2 linked regions of the Homo sapiens genome follow. The protein of the gene in region 2 interacts with the protein of the main gene of each other region in a biochemical or structural test. Each region holds a gene or a part of one and is shown on either strand. Other genes may lie near its edges.

Region 1 (7,601 bases), on a different chromosome or scaffold from region 2:
TTTTTTTTTTCTGACATTCCATGATTTCAACTAAAGTTTATCTTTAGGCCAGGCCTTTTTCCTGAACTTTCCATTCATGCACTATAGTAATCTACACAGCCTGCCATAATAAAATGCAGTAGATTGGATGGCTTAAACAACATTTATTTCTGACAGTTTTGGAGGCTGAGAAGTCCAAGATTAAGGTGCCAGCCAATTTGGTTCCTGGTGAGAACTCTCTTCTGGTTCGCAAACAGCTGCCTTTTTGCTGTGTCCTCACAGGGTGGAAAGAGAGGGATCTCCTACATCGCTTCTTATAAGGGCATGAATCCCATCATGAGGACTGCATTCTCATGATCTAATTACCTCCCAAAAGCTCATCTCCAAGTGCTATTACATTGGGAGCTAAGGCTTCGACATATGAACACCAACATTCAGTCCATAACATACCCAACAGCCTAATAGGTATCCCTACTTGACTGTTACACAGACTCTTACAATGTCAACAGGTTTAAAACTGAACTCATCTTCTTACCTGCAATCCTGCTTCTCCTGGATTTTTCCTATAGGATGCCATTCTCCATTCAGTCACCTGAATCAGATATTTTAAGACTCATCCTGCACATATCCCCACCCCCGCCCCCACCACAGACAAGCAAACCCTGTGCTTTCTGCCCCCTGACGATCCTTCGAATCCATCTCTTCTCCATGTTATTGCCATTGTCTTCACTCAAGCCCTCATATTTTCCACCTAGAGTATCACTTTCTCTCATTGCTGCTGGATCTATCCTCCATACTATATCTAGAGTGAAATTTTGAAGGATGAAAATGTTTTGGTATTACTTGCTTTCAGTCCCTCAAGATAAAATGCTGACTCGTCCTGGTCAGGTCCCTCCCTACGGGACCACTTGCATTGCCTGACATGCCGTGGACTTCCTGCCTCTGTGCCTCTCTGCCCCTGCCCCCGCGCCCGGCCAAACCTGACAAATTTTCTGATTCCACCTGGGCTTCTGGCGAGGCCCTGTCCAAACCCTCTGTGTCTGGGGCTTCTTAGTTCTTGTTATTAGGATCTCCAGGGATGGGAAGTAGATAAGCAGCCTTCTCCTGCAGCCTGTTCTCCTGTTTTGCTACCCTGTCACTACATTACTTACTTTGTCAGTATTTATGGAACACTTTCTCTGTGCCAGAGAAACATTTTTAGGAAACATGAATGAGACACAGCCTGGCCTCAAGTCTGTAAGGGAAGACTGATGGCCAGGCACATCCAATATCATGTGCTAAGTGCACAGAACACTGCAGTAGCCCAGCTTCTCCTGATCACTGATAGAAATTTCACCCTGCTTTTTCCTGTACAGGCATGGAGAACCAAACGCTTAGTTCCCAGCACCACCCACCTACCGACCCTCCATCTCTCAGGCTAAGCACCCAGCCATCAAGACGGTCACTTCCAGGTGCAGGCTGTGGTAGAAAGCAGGCTGCTCCCTGTGCTCCCCGCCTACTGGCTGACCAAGGGGCAGAAGAGCTTCCCCTTCCCTGCCCCCACTAGCTGCAGTCAGAACCATCTTTTCTGTTAAACGCCTTTGCAGCCCTCCACAGGACTGTCTCCTCAGCTCCTGGAGTAGCCAGGAAGAAAACCAAGCCCACTGTTTACTTTCTAAATGCCAGGCTTGTTTCCCTTGATGACTTGTGTAGGTTTGCATAGGAAAACTTCTTAGAACAATTTGTTCTACAAGGCAAGCACTCAAATGGCCAAGGCCTGGTTGCCTGGGCTAGCTTCAGCACTGGGGCATCAGCTCTGTGTCTCCTGCTTTACATCCACCTGTTCCATTTTATAATTGGTGCGTGGTCTCTGAAAACTCATGAGAAATCTTATTTAAAGACGGCAGTAATTAACCTAATTGCAAATATAGAAAATGAAAATATTTCCTATGAAATGCCCAGGAGTTGTCAGATGTTTTTACAGAATCCCAGAAATAGGATCAAGGAAGGAAGATAAGTAGGAAATAGCAGGGCTTTCATACATTGGTATTAAGCAGTATGCTGTGCCTGTGGTTAAATATTAAGTAAAGACATGGCCATTGTCTTCAGTGGAAAGGAAGAAATGTGGGAAGTAGAAAAATTAGATAAGGAAGCATGGAAAAGCAGCCACCCCATCTCTCTCCTCCTCCCCGTGCCACTTCCTGCAGGCGTCTTCCTGGCTTCTGCTGTTGGTGAGAGGATCAGGCTCTGAGGGCTGGGAGATTGATACTGTGTTAAAATGCAGCCTCACATCTCCCTGCCTTATTCCTCAGTCATGGAACCCTACCTGTCCATCTAACTGAGCTTCTAATTCTGTAGTTAAAGAAACATGGCCCAGAGAGTGAGGGGATTTGCTTCTTGTCCAGCAGTTTATTGGAGGCCCAACCTCCTCATTTCTGGACCCCCGGGCCAGGGCCCTTTCCCTTGACTGCTTCCGTTCCTGAGCTGCGATGACATGGAGATGATCAGCATCCCCTTCTTCCAGTGTACCTTGTCAATATATTCCTGTGAACCTGGCAAAACTTTTACATCCAGGCTTGAGGAAGTATTGCCTTTTTTTCTGGACTTTGAAAAGATACTAAGATGAGAACATCTTACTGGGCTGGAAATGCACTTTAACGTACTTGAGTGAAAAGATGTGTGAAAATGTTACAAAGCCAGTGGCATCCCTAGGCTCAACATGCCTGAAAGCTAAAGTATTAGGAAAGGAGGACTTTGTTCTCGGTGTTTTCATTCTCTTCCCTCCCTCCCCTGTTGTTCCTGCAGGCCGCCAGCTCACTGGAGCCGAGAGGGCCTCCACGGCCACTGCAGAGGAGACTGACATCGATGCGGTGGAGGTCCCACTTCCAGGGAATGATGTCCTGGAATTCAGCCGAGGTGTGACTGATCTAGATGCTGTAGGGAAGGAAGGAGGCTCTCACACAGGCTCCAAGGTAGGCAAGAGATGGCCCATCTGTGTGATCTGCACACGTGTGCCCTCAGGTCATCAGTCACTTCCTAGCCCCTGCCAGCTCAGCTTCCGAGTGAGGCACTCCATGGCACAGTGGCGGTGCCAGAGCGCACTTCATTGCCTTTCAGAAGGTCTGACTTCCAGAGGGTCTGAACACTAGATGCTGCTGCAGGCCAGGATGCTGTGGAGCTGATTCCTGACACACATCGCCCTCCCCAAATCCCACCAATATTTGGTCTCCTACTCCCTGGCACCCTCTTCCCTTAACAGCATCTCATCTTTGCACAGTATTTTGCAAGGCTCACTCTGGCACACACACACACAGACTCCCCTGTGACTTAGCTAGTAGAGCAAAGTCAGTTTGGGCCCGCTCTGCCTGCAGTAGCGGTGGTATACCGTTGGTAATTCCTGTGGATAGCACTTTGGAGTCTGGAAGTTGGCCCACTGGATGTCAGAAACTGAGAGACCACCTTAGTCTTCATCAGCTCTAACCTAACATCATATAGGTGAGATGACTGTGGCATCTGGGGGTTCCTAATGTGATCCAATTAAGAAACTAAGAACTTGAGATCAAATTCCAACCTGAAGCCAAAGCTAATTAAAAATGTTTTAAACCCAGAAGCAAAATTACTGACCAATAGCTCTACCCTTAGATTCCCAGGCGGTTTATATCAGGGCACCTCTCTCTCTTTAACATTCATATCTTATCTCACATGGAGGTTTGGAGGGCAGTTCAGTTCTAAACTAGCTGCCTGACGTTTCCTTTGGAACCAGTTTATCCTCTACAAGTGGAAACAGCCCTGTGTCACTGGGGGCCTTCCTTGTGTATGTCTGAAGAAGTCCCCACAGCAGAACTGCCAGAAACAAAATGTCTTTCCCTGCCATGGAATTCTATGAATCGTAGAAGCCATCTTGGTAAAAATGTCCACAGGAGAGGGAGACAGAAGGAAAGGAGGGAAGGACACAGGAACTTCTTTCATCTAAGAGGATCTCTCCAGATCATTATATATTTTAGGATCCAAACTTCTTTGCCGATGGTTCTCACCAGAGGCAGTGGAGGGCAGGAGGTAGCCCCCTCACATGGCCCCTTCCTCCAGGACCCAGCTCCACGCTTCTCCCAACAAGGGAGAAGGAACATCTCAGACCCTGGAGGAGGGAGCCCTAAGGACACAGCAGAGTAGAGGATTGAAGCTGGGTCCTTCCTGTTATCATGGTAGGGTGGATGGAAGCTACGTTTTCCTAAAATAGATTCTTCTAAGTCTAGAACCTCAAGGAACTCAGTGACAGGGTATCATTGGAAGTGGTGGGCAAGAGATGGAGCAGTATCAGCCATCAGTCTCCCATCGGGGTCAGTTACCGAGGTGTCCCCCTAGTCCCCCTACGATTTTCTGACTGTGTGGTATCAGCCCAGGCAGCTACACCATTTCCTTTCTGGGCCTCTACTCCCATTTCCATTGAAGATATAGTGCTGTCAGCTTATGGGTTGTAAGTGTGCCAATTTGCTCCTCCTGAGTGCATGCCAAAGAGAGGGAGGCCCCTCAAGATGGCTCCTGCCACATGTCATGTCCTGTCTTCTCCTTCTCCTCCAGGTTTCGCACCCCCAGGAGCCCATGCTGACAGCCTCACCCAGGATGCTGCTCCCTTCTTCTTCCTCGAAGCCTCCAGGCCTGGGCACAGAGACACCGCTGTCCACTCACCACCAGATGCAGCTCCTCCAGCAGCTCCTCCAGCAGCAGCAGCAGCAGACACAAGTGGCTGTGGCCCAGGTTCTCCTCAGCCTCCTCCCTACTTCGCAGGCTCCACTCTCATGGGCTTGATGCACCTTCCCTAGCGAGGGGCTCAGGGCAGGTTTAAAATCTAGGGAGTCATAAGGAATCGCTCATGCTATTGGATCATTGCTTGTTGGGGAGTGGGGGCAGCGGGAGGGGGATAGATGGGGGATGCAGTTGAAATGGAGAGGCACATTTTGGTTTCCCATGTATCCCCTGCTCTGAGCTGGGCTTGGCTGGCTTGGCTGAATGTTGTTAATGACTTGAACTGACCAAGGGAAAAGATGCACACAATTCCACCCTTCCTTTCCTGCCTTACTTTCCTGATATTTGGGGTGGAAAGTGATGCCTTTGGAGTCAGAACAGTTGTGGCTTTATGATACCACTCTTAAAACAGCTTAAAGTATGAATTTGTGCCAAACACTGTTGTAAAAAGATTACTACCCTAGCATCCCAGTCTCCGTGTCTATAACAGGTTTCCCAGCCTTCATTACGATCTACTTATTCCAGGCAGTATTTGATTGGAATTCATTATTGTAGGATTTAACTTACAGGAATTTAGGTGTATTATTTGAGCCATAATGAAAAGAATTGGCTTAGATCTCAGAATCAAGGTGGTGTTTGTACCCCAAAAAACTTGTTCGGGGGCTGCTACATTATAGGGGAGGGTGAGCTGATTTCCCTTGCTGCTTTCAGCAGGGATTCTTCTTGTTTGCTTTCTATAGAGGGCGCTGTAGTCCACATCTTTCTTGGGAAGTCTGAGCTCCCTCTCTACCACCAGCACTCAGGGAATGGTGAAGACATTCATTCATACCCAAGGCTGAATCCTGAGGCGAGAGGCAGGGTCAGGGCCTGATGAGTGCATGAAGATCTTAGGAGACGGGGCAGTTGGGGCTTGGAAGAATTGGTAAAGGATCTGGAAAGGCAGCCTGCATCAACATTCTAAATCTGCTTGACCAGACTGTTGACCACTTAGGTTTTCTGCATTCTAGAATGGCGGGGAGCAGACTTCTCCAGGGAGCACTTATTGCTCTCTGTTATGTCTTCTGCTTACTCTTGTCCTGGCTCTTGAGTGGACTGAATCATCCAGCCAGAGATATCCTTTCCACCTTTCCACCTTGAGGAGGCATCCGGCGTCCTGGCCATAACAGGATCTGCTATGACTCAGGGTTTGAAGAAGACCTTCTTGTAACACGGTCTCTCCTGACCTGGGCCTGAGATGCAAGGCTCATGGATGACTTTTGCAGCCAGGTTTCAGGAGAGTAGAGTCAATGGGACACAGCTCTCAAGTTATCGGAGTCTTTTTAAAAAGTCTTACCATGAAACAAAAGGATATCTCGTGATGCTAGGAGGATTTGCAGGTGTTCCCAAAACAGCAACAGAGAGGGGGAATGTCATTAATGGCTTCTTATATTTGGAGAAAAAAAATCATTTCTCTTTGTCAAATAAAAGAATCCATCTCCTGTAGTTAATGATGGCACAGCAGTCTGAGAATCCCCTCCCTAGTGTGACAGTTGACAGGAGCACAAAGACTAAGCACTGCAGCACGGGTCCATTCTCAGACTCATTTCATTTCCACAAGTTTCCCATTGAATACAGAACATAATACTTTTATTTTGCAGCGTATCAATTGCCAAGTAATTATTATTTATCTAAGAGTGGGCTTGATGCATATTCATGATATGATTTTATCAGGGAGGCATTTGAATTCGAAGTCACTGCTAAGTACTAGAGAGAAACTATTTGCAAATGTGTAATCCACACAATAGTGTTGTGGCGGTGGAAGGAAGCATTCAATCTCCAAAGCAACAAGACATGTAACTTATCACAGGTCTACTACAGTCAGGATGAAACCTTAAGAGTAGTTTTCTGGTATAGAATCAATTGTCAGTCTCCATGGGAAATCCTGCCCTGGCCCTGTTTTAATTGTGTCTCTCCTAGAAGACAATGAATCTAGGGGAAGGAAAGGGTGTGGTATTAGAGATTTGCTTCATGAGCCTCTCTCGGTTCCACATGTCCACAGGCTGAGCACCCTTAGCCTCTCACTCACTTGGAATCTGTTGAATATAGTTGCCCTGCTTGACTCTCAATACAAGCAGTGTGGTGATCAAAAGGCCACCATACTGCATCTGTGTCCCACATTTGTGAGATGACTTTAGGGAGAGTCTTAGGCTTCCAAAATCATCAGATAGGACGTTGGGGTCATCTGATAGGTTCTTGAACATACTCCTGTACCTCTGTCTGCCATGCCCATCTGTCTCTGACTACCTTCTTTCTGTTCGCATCTTGCTTTTGCTGTCCAGGACCACAGCAGGGATATTGTACATTTCAGCTGGCTTTCAGCTCTCCTGTCCTGCAGACGGATTCGGTCCTAAACTGACCTTCAGTTAGAGGTTTCTCCGCACACTGTTCATTCTTCCACTTTCTTTGTAGTGTTTAATTCAAGGGCTTTTTTACTAGTGTCTATATCCTTGGGTAAAAACAATTACGTAAGATGTAGCTGGATTAATAGGTGGGTCTTCTTGGCATCTTTCACACATTTGAAATAGACCAAGTATAGCAAGCTTGGTTTCTCTACGCGGGGGGGGGCTGATTTCAGTTTCCAGCACGAGGTCAGCTCTTACTTGTTCTGTCAGACTCTATTGCCACCAAACTGCAAGGCTTCTGTCTGTCTTTATTAAACTACCAGCAGTCCCCAGAATTCCAGTGAGTAAAACTATGACCTCAGCCTTTCAGGTGGGAATAGTTTCCTTCTCTCGGAGAGCATCCAAATCCTCCTATGTTGTTCCTGGATAAAAATCTAAGGATAAAGACAGTTTCTTGCAGACAAGTGTACCCTTGATGTCACTTGTTGCACTATTTATGTCGTCCCCCCCCCACCACCC
Region 2 (8,161 bases):
TTTGGATGGACAACCAAAAAGACTCCACTCTTTTCGGTCCGTATGGTTAAGTCTTAGCTAAATGAAGTGGAAACTGTCCTGAATTAGGGCCTAGGTCCCAGGTATAGCTCTGTCACTCACCAGCTGTGTTACATGACACGAAGCTGTGTGTGCTAAAATCACACATGGCCTTTGTTGTCAGACAGAACTGAGTTCGAGTTCTCACCTCAACTATGTATTATCTATATGACCTGGGGCCACCCTCCATTTCTTCAGCTATAAAATGAGGATAATAATACCTCCTTAACAAGATCGGCATATGGGTATATAAAGCATTTAGCAGTGCCTGGTACATAACATGTGTTGAGTAAATGGTAGCTATGATTATAATAATCTATAAACTGTGAATACTATCTATTCTGCCTACTTCGCAGGAGTGCATATGAAATGAGGGAATTTATATGAAAGTACTTTGAAAAACTACAAAATTTACATACGAGAGGGCTATTTCTAGAGTGGTTTTGTTATTATAAGAGCCTGCTCACTTAAAAAAAAAATCTGTTAAGAATAGCAGACTTGGGTTCTTTTCAAAAACAAATAACCTTTTAAACACTACCACCGCCACCCCATGGGGTTGGATTTCTTACTGAGTAGTGAGGGAACATGTATACCTATCACCGTGTGTGCATCCATCTGTATGCAAATTCCTGCGCTGAATTGTTGCCCTGGGGAAAGGATCATATGATGCAATATGTTTCTTTTCTTCCTAGATCCATGAGGATTTTTGGTTAAAAGCAAGAGAAATAATTGGAGTAGCTAACACAAGAAGACAGTTTTAACAGAGATGGGAGACTCACAAAATAAAATTGGGTAGGGGACAGGGATGGCAGGACCAAACTTGAGAAACAGAAATCTAGGAAATTCACGAGGTTGGGCGGCAAGATTCATGACCAAGAGTCCAGGAAACTGCTGCCACCACCATTACTGTAAGCAAGCAGTCTTAGTATGTCCAATTTCTCTCTTCATCTTTGTCACTTTCGGGTGAGGGAAAGTCCCAGGAGTGAGCATCCAATAGGCTCAACTTAGACAACATCCTTTCTTCAAGGATTTTTGGAGTAGTTGGGGAGTGGCAAATTGTGCAAGAATCTGTCCCTGGGAATTGCCAGGTCACCATACAAAAAAAAAAAAAAATCCCCCAAAAGAAACATGGAGTACAAATAGAAATAAACAAGTCTTCTAGGAAGCCACCTTTTGTCAGCTCTCATTCTACTGATGAAGAAGGTTCAGAGAAGTTATTCAAGGACTTAGTTTCAGGTCTCCTGGTTCCTAATCCATGTTGACCCTCCTACACAAAACCCAGCAATTTATAAAATCATAAGCCATTTCTCCAGCTTTAAATGATGTCTAAGGTGGAGGAGATAGGAGTAAAAGGGACTGACTCTACAGAAAGTGATTTTCTGTTTTCAGGCCTTTTTGATTACATGAGATCAGTACATAAGAATAAATAATGCTAGAATGCAGCTGACCTCCAATGCATGATGGGAGAACCTCATTACTGCAAAACCCTTGGTGATATATATTGAGAAGTGGCTACAATACATTGAATTTTCAGTAGAAACCATTAAGCACTCCTGCATCTAATTGCCATTTTTTCTTATTCAGAGTGCAATAAAAAATAATTTTCCATGCAATAATTTATCTGGCTTTCATCTAAACCTCTATGCCATTCTGTTTCCTCTTTCCTTCCTTGCTTCAGACTGACAGCACTGAGGCCTTTTAGATTTACAGACCCAGACATGAATACACACCTTCCATGTTTCCCCAAGCAACATTCCTGTGCATATTTGAAAACCAGTAGTTAAGAAAAATTATGATGATGTTACAGCTCCAAAGGTTACAGTTGGGAGGAGTTTTGGAGGAGCTGTGCTCTAGCCTGAGGGAAACTGAGGCTTAGAAGATATATGTCAGGTAGATGGAGGTAGGGGCGGGCCAAATGCCATTAAAGACTATGCTGGGTTTTTCATTTGGGATTTCCTTGATCCTTTTATTTCCCATTATTGTTCTCATCCAATCTGGACAGACACTATGAGGGTTTCTTTAAAAGGTTGGAGGTATTGTCTAATCCAGAGGTGGAAATAGTCCCTAAGGGGATAAATCCAGCCCATACATGGGTTTGATCTTGTCCAACAGTCTTGGCCAATACAGTCTTTTAAAAAGTTTTAGTTAATTGGCTGGGTGCAGTGGCTCACGCCTGCAATCCCAGCACTTTGGGAGGCCAAGGCGGGCGGATCATGAGGTCAGGAGATCGAGACCCTCTTGGCTAACGCGGTGAAACCCCATCTGTACTAAAAATACAAAAAATTAGCTGGACGTGGTGGCGGGCGCCTGTAGTCCCAGCTACCTGGGAGGCTGAGGAAGGAGAATGGCGTGAACCCGGAAGGCAGAGCTTGCAGTGAGCCGAGATTGCACCACTGCAATCTCGACAATCCACTGCAATCCAGCCTGGGCGACAGAGCGAGACTCCGTCTCAGAAAAAAAAAAAAAAAAAGTTGTAGTTAATTACCAGCATTTAAAAAAACCAGAGATTTAACATAATCTGAATTTCTGGCCTCTTAATAAAAATCAGGGTCTGGTGTGGTGGCTCACGCCTATAATCCCAGCACTTTGGGAGGCCAAGGTGGGCAGATCACGAGGTTAGAAGTTCGAGACCAGTCTGGCCAACATGGTGAAACCCTGTCTCTACTAAAAATACACAAATTAGCCAGACGTGGTGGTGGGCGCCTGTAATTCCAGCTGCTTGGGAGGCAGGAGAATTGCTTGAACCAGGGAGGCGGAGGTTGCGGTGAGCTGAGATCGCACCACTGCACTCTAGCCTGGGTGACAGAGCAGGACTCAGTCTCGATAAAAAACAAACAAACAAAAAACAGAACATCTGGCAACTCTGGGTGGGTCTCCATTCACATATGGCAAAAATCAGTTGGAGCTGAGCAGTGACTGTCACCTTAGGCAGGTGTGCATACCTCAGTCTGTCACAAGCCCCATCCCTCCTTTCTATTATACCCTGCCAACCTCACTTAGTACATGACTACCCGGCCACGTCGGTATTAAAGTTTGTGATCCTTCAGCTAGTCTTATGCCCTCTTAGTTACTGAGGTTAGAGTCACTCCCTCTTAGTTACTGAGATCATGTACTAACGCTCATGCAGTAAGTGGAAGATGCTGGGTAAGAACCTTCCCGATCTTGGAAATAGTACCATTACTCCACAGTGGCTCAAGCTAAACACCTAGGAGATTTTCTTCTTTCATCCCTTTACGTCAACCCCTGTCATAGTCTATTTTGTGCCAATATAACAGAATATCACAGACTGGGTAATTTATAAGGAACAACAATTTATTTAGCTCATGGCTCTGGAGGCTGGGAAGTCCAAGATTGAGGGGCTGCATCTGGTAAGGGCCTTCATGCTGAGTCACCCCATGGCACAAGGCAGAACAAGAGAGCAGCAGAGGGGTGGGGAGAGGGCCACTCCTGGCATTAATGGAATCACCTCTTAAAGGTCCCACCTCTCAACACTGTTGCATTGGGGATTAAGTTTCCAAGATATGAACTTTGGGGAACATATTTAAACCATAGCATCCCCTAAATCCAGCCTAATCCATCATCAAGCCTTCCTGTGCTACTTTTGACACACATTGCAGGAGGTCCACCTTTTCCGTATCTTGCTGTCACCACCCTGGTCTTCATCACCATAATCTCTTGCCTGAATTGTTCCCTCCAGATTGATATGACAAAGCCCTGACCCTCACGGTGGCCTACAAGGTTCTGGGTGATGGTGATTCCACACTAGTCTACCTCTCTGGCTGTAACCCACTCTCCCCTTGCTCACCTCACTCAGCCACCCTGGGGGCCAGTTCCAGCTTCAGAACCATGCATCGGCCGACCCCTCTGTCAGCAATGCTCTTGCTTCAGCCCTGGAATCGTTTTTGTCCTCCAAGTATCCAATATCACAAGCGGCCCGGAGACCACCCTAGGTATAGCAGTCCTAGACCCCTTTCTTTTTCTTTTCTTTTTTTTGGAGACGGCATCTAGCTCTGTTGCCCAGGCTGGAGTGCAGTGGCTCTAACTCGGCTTACTGTAACTTCCACCTCCCGGGTCCAAGCAATTCTGCCTCAGCCTCCCGAGTAGCTAGGACTACAGGTGAGGGCCACCATGCCCAGCTAATTTTTGTATTTTTAGTAGAGACGGGGTTTTATCATCTTGGCCAGGCTGGTCTTGAACTCCCGACCTCGTGATTCACCTGCCTCGGCCTCCCAAAGTGCTGGGATTACAGGCGTGAGCCACAGGCACCCAGCCGACATTCTCTTGTTTTTTTCGTTTGTTGTATATAACCTACCCCCACCTCCACCCCATGCAAAGTCCACGAGGACGATAGACTTTGTCTTGTTCCCTGTTGCATCCTGGCCCTAGGGCCTAGCCCACAACCTGGGACATTTCCTGACAAGGGGCCCTGGTTTCTCTGAGGTGCCACCTGAGGTCCGGGAGGTCAGCTGACTTTCCCAAAGGTGGATTCCAAGGACACTGCATTCTTCGCACTCCCCGAGGGGCGTCTAGACACTCCTGGGACCCAGAATTATTAGCTAACTGGGCTCCTGAGTCCGGTGAGAGCTCAGAGTCTAGAAGCAACTTTCCCTGCCTGGAGAGGTGAACCCAGCAAGGCGTTGGGGAGAGGCGTGGGCGAGGGAGTGGGCGCGGGTGGGCGGGGCCGTCCGGGGGCCTCGTTGCCCGAGCCAATGGGGCGCCGCGGCGCGGGGAGGCCGGGCCGCCGGGCGGGGGCGCTCGCGCGCGTTGAGGGGCAGAGGCTGAGCTCCCGGGACCCGGAGCGGATCGACTGGCGGGCGCCGCGCCGAGGCACCACCGGGCGCCGAGTTCCTGGCGGCTCGCACGGTAAGCGGCGCGGCGCCGCAAAGTAGACTTTGTGGGGTTTCTGACAGCCGGGAGACCCCACCTCGAGCGGGGGCTGCTGGTGCGTTCTCGCGTCGGGCTGCGTCCCCTGGAGCTCCGGCTCTGTGTCCGCGGGATGCGGGCGCACGGAGGGGCAGGGAGGGAGGCAAGGAGCCGCGCACCACGGTGTCTCCCCAGGCTGCCGCTGCCGGGGCCCTGGGCCGGTCCCTGGGACAGACAGATCGGCGTGCGGGGGCCGTCTGCCGGGCCCGGGAGCCGGGGGCGCGCAAGACTGTGGATCCTAAGACTGCCTCCACCCAGCGCCCGGCCCGGGGAAGAGCTTGCGGGAAACCAGGAACCGCAGCGGCCGGACCTCTGCTCTGCGCCGGCTCCTAGGACCTGCCTTAGGTCCCCAGACCCCTCATGACCTGTTGCCTTGGGTTTGGGAGGTCAGGTTTGTCATGCCATTTCCGATTTCCAGTCATCCTGGGGGCAGGATGAAATTTCAGAGTGGTTTCCTGGCCAAGCTAGAAGCAGAGAATAGCTATGGATACAGCACCTCGTGTATCTATCCAGCACTTACTTGGCTTTTTCTGAGTGCCAGGAACTGTGCCAAGCCCTAGCAGCATGAAGAATGGCCTTTGGGGAGCTTCTGGGGCTAAGAGGGACAGTAGGAGGAGCAATTGCAGTGCAGGGTAGTGCGGAAGACTCGAGATGGAGAAGAGGACGGTGAGGAAGCCAGGAAGGTTTCAGAGAGGAGGTGAGCATTGACTGGAAGTCGGAGGTTTTGCCAGGCTGAAAAGTGTGTTGGGACTGTGAGTTGATAGGGAGCAGGAATTCCAGGTGGGTTTTCTTGTGTAAAGGTAAAGAAACTGAAAAGGTCCGGTGTCCTGACCTAGCACATCAGATAATTCTACAGCAGATAATGGAGTAGGACCGGGTCTTGCTGTAGGTAGGAAATGAGCTCTCGACATGGCAGGAAGCTAAAACCTGCACAGACCTTAAAGTGCAGCCTTAGAATATTTAGAATTTTATCCTGGAATGAAGGAGGGCCGTGGAAGAATTCTGATCAGTGATCAGGTCCCTCTGGCAGCTCTGGGGACAATGGATGGAGGCCGGAGCATCAGAAAGCTGGTAAGTTGTAGTTGTTTTCTGGTCCTTGGCTGCAAATACTCTTCCCTGCTTAAGGGAGCCCCCTCTGCCCGGGAGCCCTGCTCCCTGGCTTCTGGACATGGATTCAGGCAAAGAGATGCTGCCCGTGTAATGCTTGCTTCTGCAGCCTGCACATCATTTTGATATTGTTTCTGGAGCCTGTGACCTCAGTCTTGTCATCAGGCCTCTGAAGGGTGCCTCTGCTCTTCTTTTCTCATCTTCAAGCCCTCTGTGTGCCCTTCCCCTCTGCCTGGGCTCCCCTTTCTGTTTCACAGAGATCCAGTCTCAGCCATTGGAGGCAAGGCTGTGTGTAGATTGGTGTAGTAGAAAGAACAAGGGCTCGCTGGGAAATCAGACCAGAAAGTCACTTTAGCCATAGGCTTTGGGGACATTAGCAACCTTCATGAACCTTCTTTTTCTGATTTAAAAGGAAATCATTGTACTCACCTGTCATGGTTTGGGTTCCCTGGAAAAAGACTTGGCGCTTCTGAGATTTTTGTGCAGATAAGGGAAGCAGAACTGGGCAGAGGGAGATGTTGATCTATGGTGCAGTGCAAGAGAGGTCTCAATCCCTCCCATGAGACAAAGAGACGAGGCCTTTGAAGCTTAATGTTGATCAGCCAGTGGGTGCAGGCTGGTCCTAGGGAGGGAGCTAGGATGTCCCTTCAGCAGGACAGTTCCTGACTAGGGACTCACCTGGGAGCTGGGGTAACCAACACTCTGGCAGCTGGACATGGGGAAGTCATGAGTGTCTTGGTCTTGGAGGGGGAGTTGAGCATTTCCCCACGGTATCCACTACACTACCTCACAAATGAAGTAGTGCTTTGTACTGTGCCTGGTGCATAGTAGATATCTTAAAAGTATTCATTTCTCTCACCTTTAAGTTTCATGACTGCACCTGAAAATGAGTTTTGGAATTCGAGTTGAGTCAGCTTTTGTGAGGAGCTTTTAATAATAATAGCCACGAAGACTACTGCTTCCCTTTTTTGAGTGTCTATTATGTATATACATTCTCTTCTAGTTGTCCAATAATACTCCAACTTAGGTACTTTTATTCTCATTTTATAGTAAACCCAGTCTCTTCCAAAACCCAACCAAGTTGATGTTCTTTTGCCACAAAATAATAATTATAATAATAACAATCACTCACAACTCTATGATTTGTTACACTTTCCAAAGTGCTTTCATTGGTGGATTGATTGATTAATCATTCATTCATCCACTAATTAATCAATCAATGTGTATTGAGTGTCTCTTAAGGAGTAGGCGCTATCCTAGGTGATGGGGAGAAAGCTCAGTCTATTAGAGGAGATAGACATTAAATGCTTGGATTCATCAAAAGCAAGTGTTGAGGGGTGGAACATTGCATTGCATAGCCAGTATGTGATAGAGAATAACAGGCTCTTTGTCCAATTGACTCCTTGCCTTCAGTTTCAATATAACCTTCTTGGAAAGGCCTTCTGTACTCCCTCCCTTTTATTCTCCCTTCGTAACAGTCATTTATCTATTTTATTTACTTTCCTATTGTTGGTCCTCCCCTTTAGACTGCAGACTCCAGGGGATCATACATTGCTTCATCCCAAGAGCCTACCACAGGGTTTAGCACATATTTCTTAAATGAGTGAAATGAATGAAGGGTGGATGTGCTTAACAGTGTAGTCAGGGAAGGTCTCCCAAAGTAGTGATATTTACACTGAGATCTGGGGAATGAGAAAGATCCGGCAACGCCAAGATCAAGAGGCAGAGAGAACAGCTTATTCAAAGACCGCGAGGTGGAGGAATGGAGGCTATTGTGGTTGGAGCGCATAGTGGGCAAATTGTGTGGAGTGGCCCGAGATGAGTTTGAAGGCAGTGGAGTCTTGGAGGCCATGCTGAGCTTACATTTTTATCTAAAGTGCAACAAACGAATCATTGAAGGATTTTAAGCCTGATGTGATAGTGTATATTTGTGTGTTGTCTGTTATGCCTCTGGGAGGAGAACTCCTTGAAGAAAGGTGCTTAGTAAATAGTGCTTAAATGAATGGATGATCTGGTTTATGTTTTAAAAGGAGTCAATCTCAGCTTCCAGGTGAGAAGTGGAATAGAGAGAAGA

What was found.
Region 1: the proteins of SYN3 (region 2) and NOS1AP form a complex in vitro, tested with the Homo sapiens proteins (one study listed by BioGRID).

The regions. Positions count from the first base shown.
Region 1 is NC_000001.11:162,352,424-162,360,024, forward strand, and holds part of NOS1AP (carboxyl-terminal PDZ ligand of neuronal nitric oxide synthase protein), read left to right. Parts: intron 1-2,763; coding exon 2,764-2,930; intron 2,931-4,536; coding exon 4,537-4,713; intron 4,714-7,601. UniProt on the Homo sapiens protein: Adapter protein involved in neuronal nitric-oxide (NO) synthesis regulation via its association with nNOS/NOS1. The complex formed with NOS1 and synapsins is necessary for specific NO and synapsin functions at a presynaptic level.
Region 2 is NC_000022.11:33,055,051-33,063,211, reverse strand, and holds the start of SYN3 (synapsin-3), read left to right. Parts: upstream 1-4,830; 5' UTR 4,831-4,920; exon of another isoform or gene 4,921-6,051; intron 6,052-8,161. UniProt on the Homo sapiens protein: May be involved in the regulation of neurotransmitter release and synaptogenesis.